Homo sapiens: one gene and its partner. The protein of the gene in region 1 interacts with the protein of each later gene in a pairwise test. Each region holds a gene or a part of one and is shown on either strand. Other genes may lie near its edges.

The links.
Region 2: the proteins of HMMR (region 1) and CDH13 interact in a two-hybrid assay, tested with the Homo sapiens proteins (one large-scale study listed by BioGRID and IntAct).

What each region holds. Positions count from the first base shown.
Region 1 is NC_000005.10:163,463,439-163,467,264, reverse strand, and holds part of HMMR (hyaluronan mediated motility receptor), read right to left. Parts: intron 3,410-3,826; coding exon 3,311-3,409; intron 2,543-3,310; coding exon 2,463-2,542; intron 1-2,462. UniProt on the Homo sapiens protein: Receptor for hyaluronic acid (HA). Involved in cell motility. When hyaluronan binds to HMMR, the phosphorylation of a number of proteins, including PTK2/FAK1 occurs.
Region 2 is NC_000016.10:83,781,375-83,785,200, forward strand, and holds part of CDH13 (cadherin-13 isoform 1 preproprotein), read left to right. Parts: intron 1-1,879; coding exon 1,880-2,098; intron 2,099-3,826.

The DNA of each region.
Region 1 (3,826 bases):
GATTCTAATTTTCTCATTGGCTTTATTCTAAATAAGACATATAATTTTCACACTATATCTTTTTATATCCAACAGACTTTCTGACACAATGGCTAGAAAAAGAATATCTTTTCCATCTAAAAATGGAAGAAAGGCATCAACATCTTGAATGAAATCTGTTTCAGATGTTTCTAAGTGGGGCAGGAGGTGGGGGTGACATCAGTGTCATGTTTATTAATTTCACACTCCATGAAATTTTTTATGGGGAAGGACTATTATTTTGGGGCTCCATACAAACTTGTATGTAATTTAGTTTTCTAAGGGGCTTTATAAATTACAAAATTACAGAACAGTTTCTTCAAGAAATTTAAGTCAAACCACTTACATCAATTTCTAAGAAAAGAGTGTCTATAATAGTCCTGCCCAATAAAAATAATGCAAGCCACCTATGCATTTAAATTTTTCTAGTAGTGTGTTTAAAAAGTAAAAATCTTAATATATTTTATTTAACCCAACATATCAAATATATTTTTTCAGCATGTCATTGGTATAAAATTATCAATGAGATGTTTTATATTTTTGTACTAAGTCTTTAAAGTTTTCTTTGTATTCTACACTTATAGCACGTCTTAATTCAATGCTAAATTTTCATCAGAAATGTTTATGTATATTTAATTTCATAAAACATAGAAAGGAGAAAGTAAATTCACATACTCAAGTTGTTCCAAAAATATTTAAAAGCGTTCCACTAACAAAATCGAGTATGTCTTTAAATATGTATTAATTAAAATTAAATATTAAAAATTTAGTTCTTTAATAGCACTAGCCACATTTCAGTTGCTCAATAGACACATGTGGCTATGCTTCCATACAGAACAACATAGCTCTATATTACAGAATATGAGGCTTAGGCAACTGCCAAATGAATGAACAACCTAAGCCTTTTTCCAACTCTGAATATTTTTCACATCAAAAAACCTATTAATTTGTACAACTTTTTTACTTTATTTTTATCTTTGAGATAGGTCTCGCTCTGCTGCCCAGGCTGGAGTGCAGTGGTGCAATCTCTCGGCTCACTGCAACCTCTGCCTCCCTAGGTTCAAGCAGTTCTCCTGCCTCAGCCTCCCGAGTAGCTGGGATTACAGGTACGTGCCACCACACACGGCTAATTTTCTTGTATTTTTAGTAGAGACGGGGTTTCACCATGTGGGTCAGGCTGGTCTCGAACTCTTGACCTCAAGCAATCCACCTGCTTCAGCCTCCCAAAGTGCTGGGATTACAGGCGTGAGCTACTGTGCCCGGCTGTCTTTTTTTTTTTTTTTGGAGAGACTGAGTCTCGCTCTGTTGCCCAGGCTGGAGTACAGTGGCACCACCTTGGCTGACTGCAACCTCTGCCTCCCAGGTTCAAGCAATTCTCCTGCCTCAGCTTCCCAAGTAGCTGGGACTACAGGCACGTGCCACCACGTCCAGCACATTTTTGTATTTTTTAGTAGAGATGGGGTTTGACTACATGTTGGCCAGGCTGGTCTCAAACTCCTGACCTCAAGTGATCCACCTGCCTTGCCTCCCAAAGTGCTGGGATTATAGGCGTGAACCACTGTGCGCCCCCCAGCTGTCTTTTAAAAAGTATTATATGGCGGCTGGGTGTGGTGGACAACACCTGTAATCCCAGCACTTTGGGAGGCCAAAGTGGGCTGATCACCTGAAGTCAGGAATTCAAGACCAGCCTAGCCTGCCCAACTGGCTAATATGTTTAAACCTCGTCTTTAGCAAAAACACAAAAAGTAACTGGGCGTGGTGGGGCGTGCCTGTAATCCCAGCTACTGGGGAGGCTGAGGCAGGAGAATCGCTTGAGCCTGTGGGGACAGAGGCTGCAGTAAGCTGAGATGGCGCCACTGCACTTTAGCCTGGGTGACAGAGTGATACTCCATCTCAAAAAAAAAATACATAAATAAAATTTAAAAAGTACTATGCAGCTTGCCTGTTTATAAACTTATGAAAAGAGTAATAGTAGCTCTTGCACAAGCCACAAGACTATTAAGAATTTAATCTCTCACCACTCCTTAACAGTTTCTCAGTAGCAAACCTCTCTTAGATATTGGCATTTTTTCCCACTTTTCTTCAAAAACACTTACCCTTCCCCACAAACAAATACACAAAAACAAAACAACTCAAATGGTGGTACTTAATAAATCAAAGCATCACATAATTTTGAAATGTTTACTAGGTAATGAACAATTTAAACATAGAAGTGATTGAGAATTGAAGACCATTATAATTGTGAACTAAGGGCACATTTAAACATAATGACCTAGGCAGAAATGTAAAACTTGCTAGAGTTCTAATGATAACTCATTTCATTAATTTACAGATTTACTTATAACCTTGATTCATACACTTAACCCATTCTAATCAAATACAATACTTTCAGATGTTTTTGATGATACACTTGATAAACCAGCTGGCATATAAAAGCTCCTCACCTTTGATTCCGAAGACTTAACTTTTCTAGCTGAAGCAGGCAAGGTAGTATCTTTGTCAACATTAAGATTTTGTTTAGATTCTGCGGAAAAATGAATTGTACAGATCATGGTTGATGTCAATGTGTTTTAACTACACACAAAACACAATTTCCAAATTTTTTTGTCTTTCTCTTTTTGTTTGTTTTTGTTTTTTGAGACAGTCTCACTGTCACCCAGCCTGGACTGCAGTGGTGTCATCTCAGCCCACTGCAACCTCTGCCTCCCAGTTTCAAGCAACTCTCCCACTTTCCTCCCTAGTAGCTGGAACCACAGGCGCACCCCACCACACCTGGCTAATTTCTGTATTTTTAGTAGAGATGGGGTTTCACCATGTTGGCCAGGCTTGTCTCGAAATCCTGAACTCATGTGATCCACCCACCTTGGCCTCACAGAGTGCCAGGATTACGAGCACGAGCCACCTTGCCCGGCCCCAAATTTCTAATTACAACTTTTGATGAAACAATATATTCTTTCCTTAGTTGTACATTTTCAAATAATTACTCATACAATTTTTTTACACATCTAACACCTTTCTGATTTTCCTAATATTCCCTGACAAGTCAAGGTAATTACCAAAAGGGAAGCTACATATCAATATAAGTATCTTGCTTAATTTTCCTGGTTATATAACAATGTAATGATGACAGCATTATTCTGTACTTGACCCTTTCATAAATCCATCAAATAAAATTTAAATATAGTTCTAGCTTCACATTTTAAAAAATGCTATAACATCTTTAAATATTGTTATTCATAACTTTAAAACTTATAAGATCACATAACCATTGTTCTTTGGTGATCTATATTACCTTTTTGTTGTTTAAATCTTTGTGATTTCTGAAAGGATACTGGTCCTTTCAATACTTCTAAAGTTTTAACATCATAAGCACCTGGAGATGGTGCACAACCTAGAGGAAATAGAAAACATTAATATATTATCTAATGTTACTTATGATCTTAAGTTAAAACATGTCATAATAAAGTGAATATAAATGTAAAAATGTCATTAACAAACTGCTTTTTTTAAATGTAAAAAATTGCATCCATTTGATATTACAAAGAAGGCCTCTCTATGAAGAACAATATCATCTTGCCCTTTATATCAACCGGGTCAAAGGAACACAGGCAACTGAGCAAACGACAGTTTTGAGATGAACATCATATATTACAGGCAATATATGGCTTTCTTACTAAGGATTGAATATAGCAAATAAAATACTTGGTGTCAACTCTACTCGAAGAGAGTCACAAAGATAACTACTATCAGTTTCTAGAAATAAAGTAATTAAAATTGTCTATCCCTCAATGTTTAGCCTAGAATAAAA
Region 2 (3,826 bases), on another chromosome or scaffold:
CTGCTGTTGACCCCGTCAGGGTTCCCACTTCTTATGTCAGTGGTAGAACTTTTGAGGGAGACAGAGAATTACGCATTTCATTAGGTTTTGCAAATGTATTGTACAATTGTGCATAACATTTTCTATTTAAAAATCTCATATCTATTGTTATAGCCCTATCTCATATCTCATTTTTTTAGTGCCTTTTGCTTGTTATTGATTCTATTTGCCTGTTTGTCTATTTTATTGCTTTTTAAATAATGAATTCTGTTATACTGATTATTTTTAATTAAAACAGACCTTCTCTTGTTTGAGGGGTTAGTGTTTTATTTGCTAGTTTTTATGGCTATAGCCTATTTGAATAATCATCTCCAGTTCTTTCCAATTGGAACTTTCTCATTCAAGAGTTTCTTTTTTGGGGGCGTGCAGAGGGGGGTGAGCATCAGGATAAATAGCCAGTGCATGTGGGGCTTAATACCTAGGTGATGGGATGATTTGTGCAGCAAATCACCATGGCACATGTTTACCTATGTAACAAACCTGCACATCCTGCTCATGTACCCCGGAACTTCAATTAAAAAAAAAAAGAAGAAAAAAAAAAAGATTGTATCCTCTACTAAAGGAAGATGGGAAAATGCTGTTTGATTTAATCTGCCATCTCACTAGGTGAGCATCACATTAGTCATTGCTGCTCCTGTCACCTTCTGGTAATGATCATGCTTCATGTATTTTTATTTCCCTGTCATTACTCTCTTGTTTTTTCTCCTGGTTTTACCTAATAGATAAATGCCTTCTAAATGATTTTGTTGTCTCACAGTTTTTTTTTCTGAATATTTAGCCCTGTTTATTCCCAGAAAGGGGCACTTAAAAATACATATGACCCTAATCATGTGAGTGACTTTATCTCAAGGCTAAAGAATAGGCCAGCTGGTGCAGCCACTGCCAAGTGTCACCCAGGGGCCTGGGTGATGGTGGCTATTGCCACCGCACATGACATCAGGGAAGTGGAGGGGAAGCTTAAAGATCCAGTCTCTATGTTGCGGGTTCCCACCCAAATGTAGAGCTGTGGACAGAGGATTGATCAAAAAAAACAAAAACAAGGCTGGACTCAGTGGCTCACACCTGTAATCCCAGCATTTTGGGAGGCCGAGGCAGGCAGATCACCTGAGGTCAGGAGTTTGAGACCAGCATGGCCAATATGGTGAAACCCCATCAGTACTAAATATACAAAAATTAGCTGGGCATGGTAGTGTGTGCCTGTAATCCCAGCTACTCGGGAGGCTAAGGCAGGAGAATCATTTGAACCCAGGATGCGGAGGTTGCAATGAGCCAAGATTGCACCACTGCACTCCAGGCTGGGCAACAGAGTGAGACCCTGTCTCGAAAAAAAAAAAAAAAAAACTAAAGACAAAAAATGTAGGCTATAGAACCCATCTCCATGATAACACATTAGGGTCCTGCCCACATTGAGAGCAGGTGGATTTTCACCTTAGCTTTCTAGATGTGGAACGCAGTCTTTGTCAAGATGGCTTTTTCGTGTAATAAATTTGCAGGGAGGAGTTCTTGGTAATCAATCATCTTCATGAAAGGAGCTCTCCTTGAAACTGATTATAATCGCGCCGAGGCACAGAACTCTGGTGATGGAAACACTCTGTCTCTGTGTTGTTCATTACAGGAGCCAGCAGCCATGTGTGGCTTCTGGGCACTTGGAATGTGGCAGGTGCCACTGAGGATCTGAACTGGTATTTTCACTTGATGTTAATGAATTTAAATGTAAGCATTCGCACAATTATAAATGAAAATGCAATGCCTGTTTGGTGTGACTTTCATCACCAAAACCTCACTCTTTTATTGGAAAAAGTCTCATCCACTCTCACCAGAACCCTCCTTGCCTTTACAGATACACACGCCCTGGTAAGCCTTCTTCAAAATCTGAACAAAGCAAACTACAACCTGCCCATCATGGTGACAGATTCAGGGAAACCACCCATGACGAATATCACAGATCTCAGGGTACAAGTGTGCTCCTGCAGGAATTCCAAAGTGGACTGCAACGCGGCAGGGGCCCTGCGCTTCAGCCTGCCCTCAGTCCTGCTCCTCAGCCTCTTCAGCTTAGCTTGTAAGTTGACCTAACTCCAGTGCATGCACAAACAGGAAATTGTAACTTCACTGGGTTCGTGAAGCCAGCATTTTCCCATATACCTTTCCAAGAAGATGTTTCCCAGAAGAATCATTCATCTTTAGTGTATGTCTGTATGATAGAACATGTTATATGTAAAAGTGCTCCCACTGATGTTTAAAGGCATCTTAACAATCCCTGCCAGCCAGTCTGAGGGATTGTGCAAAGGTGTTCATTGCTAGCCTGCAAACTAGGTGGTAAGCAAAACTTCCTACAGCTGCCACTCAACTTGAGCTAATGAAAATGCGCCCAGATTAGTTAACTAGTCTATCAGAGGCCTGTTTCTCTCTACATTATGCAGAATAATCTTTTGCAAGGTTAAAACAGATATTATGAGACTTTCTGAGAATAGTCGTGAGAATTTATGGATGGAGGGTGGGCTGCAGGGAAAATGATAAATGCATAATTTACACTGTTTTTTCACTGGCTAGTAATAATGACTATAATATCATGAAACATTGTTTTTAACAAATGAATTATTATGCCAAGTAGTATAGATGTGAGGATAAAATTAATAAATACATGTCTCAGATATTCCTTATTTATGAAATACTAGTCCAATGTTAACTTTAGCCGTTATTCATATATAACTGTTACCATCCAAAAGCCTTTTGGGCCTTGCAATTTACCTTTTGAGAACGTATCGGTGTAATTGTGAATTAGGAAGTTGGGAAATTGACAGAAAAAGAAAACAGAAGGTTTTTTATCCTACTGACAGTGGTGAGCTGCCAGGAAATCACATAGTACAACATTGGACATTCACGTATATAAAGCTCTGTGCAAGACCAGAGTCCTGTGAGTAGAAGGAAAAATGAAGGGCCAGGCACGGTGGCTCACACCTATAATCCCACCACTTTGGGAGGTCGAGGTGGGTGGATCATCTGAGATCAGGAGTTCAAGACCAGTCTGGCCAACATGGTGAAACCTTGTGTCTACTAAAAATACAAAAATTAGCCAGCCATGGTGGCACATGCCTGTAGTCCCAGCTACTCGGGAGGCTGAGGCAGCAGAATCACTTGAACCCGGGAGGCGGAGGTTGCAGTGAGCCAAGATCATGCCATTGATCTCCAACCTGGGTGACAGAGCAAGGCTCTGTCTCAAAAAAAAAAAAAAAAAGGAAACAAGAAGCCATTATAGCATTTCACTGGCCCTTCAGACTGGGCATTTCTGAAAGCGAACATATCATCTTCCCCTCCTGACCTGCCCCTCTGCCTGACTTGTCTCTGATGACTGTACCACCACCATCATCATCACCATCATCTCCATGTCTCCTTCCTGGTCTTCCCACTGCAAAGCCCAACAGAGTCTAAGGGTCCAACACTTTCCATCCATCCCTGCCTCCACCCTCCTGTCTCAGGTACTAATGTCACTTAACCTCGATTATCTCACTGGCTTTCTAACTTTATCTTCTGCAAAGAGAGAGAGAAAATAGAAATCAAGAGGCCACCCCTCGGAGGCTTCTCCTGAGTCTTTTCTGTAAAGCAGAGACAATTTCAGATGAAGGGTTAGAGATGGGAGTGGGGACTGAGAAGAAATTAGGAAACCTTGTCAAAGCACAGATAATTCGGCTGTACAGCAATTGGGCTAAACGTTGAGCAGGGGTGGTCCAGAGGAGTTTGTATACTGTCTTAGTCCATTCGGGCTACTATAACAAAATACCATAAACTG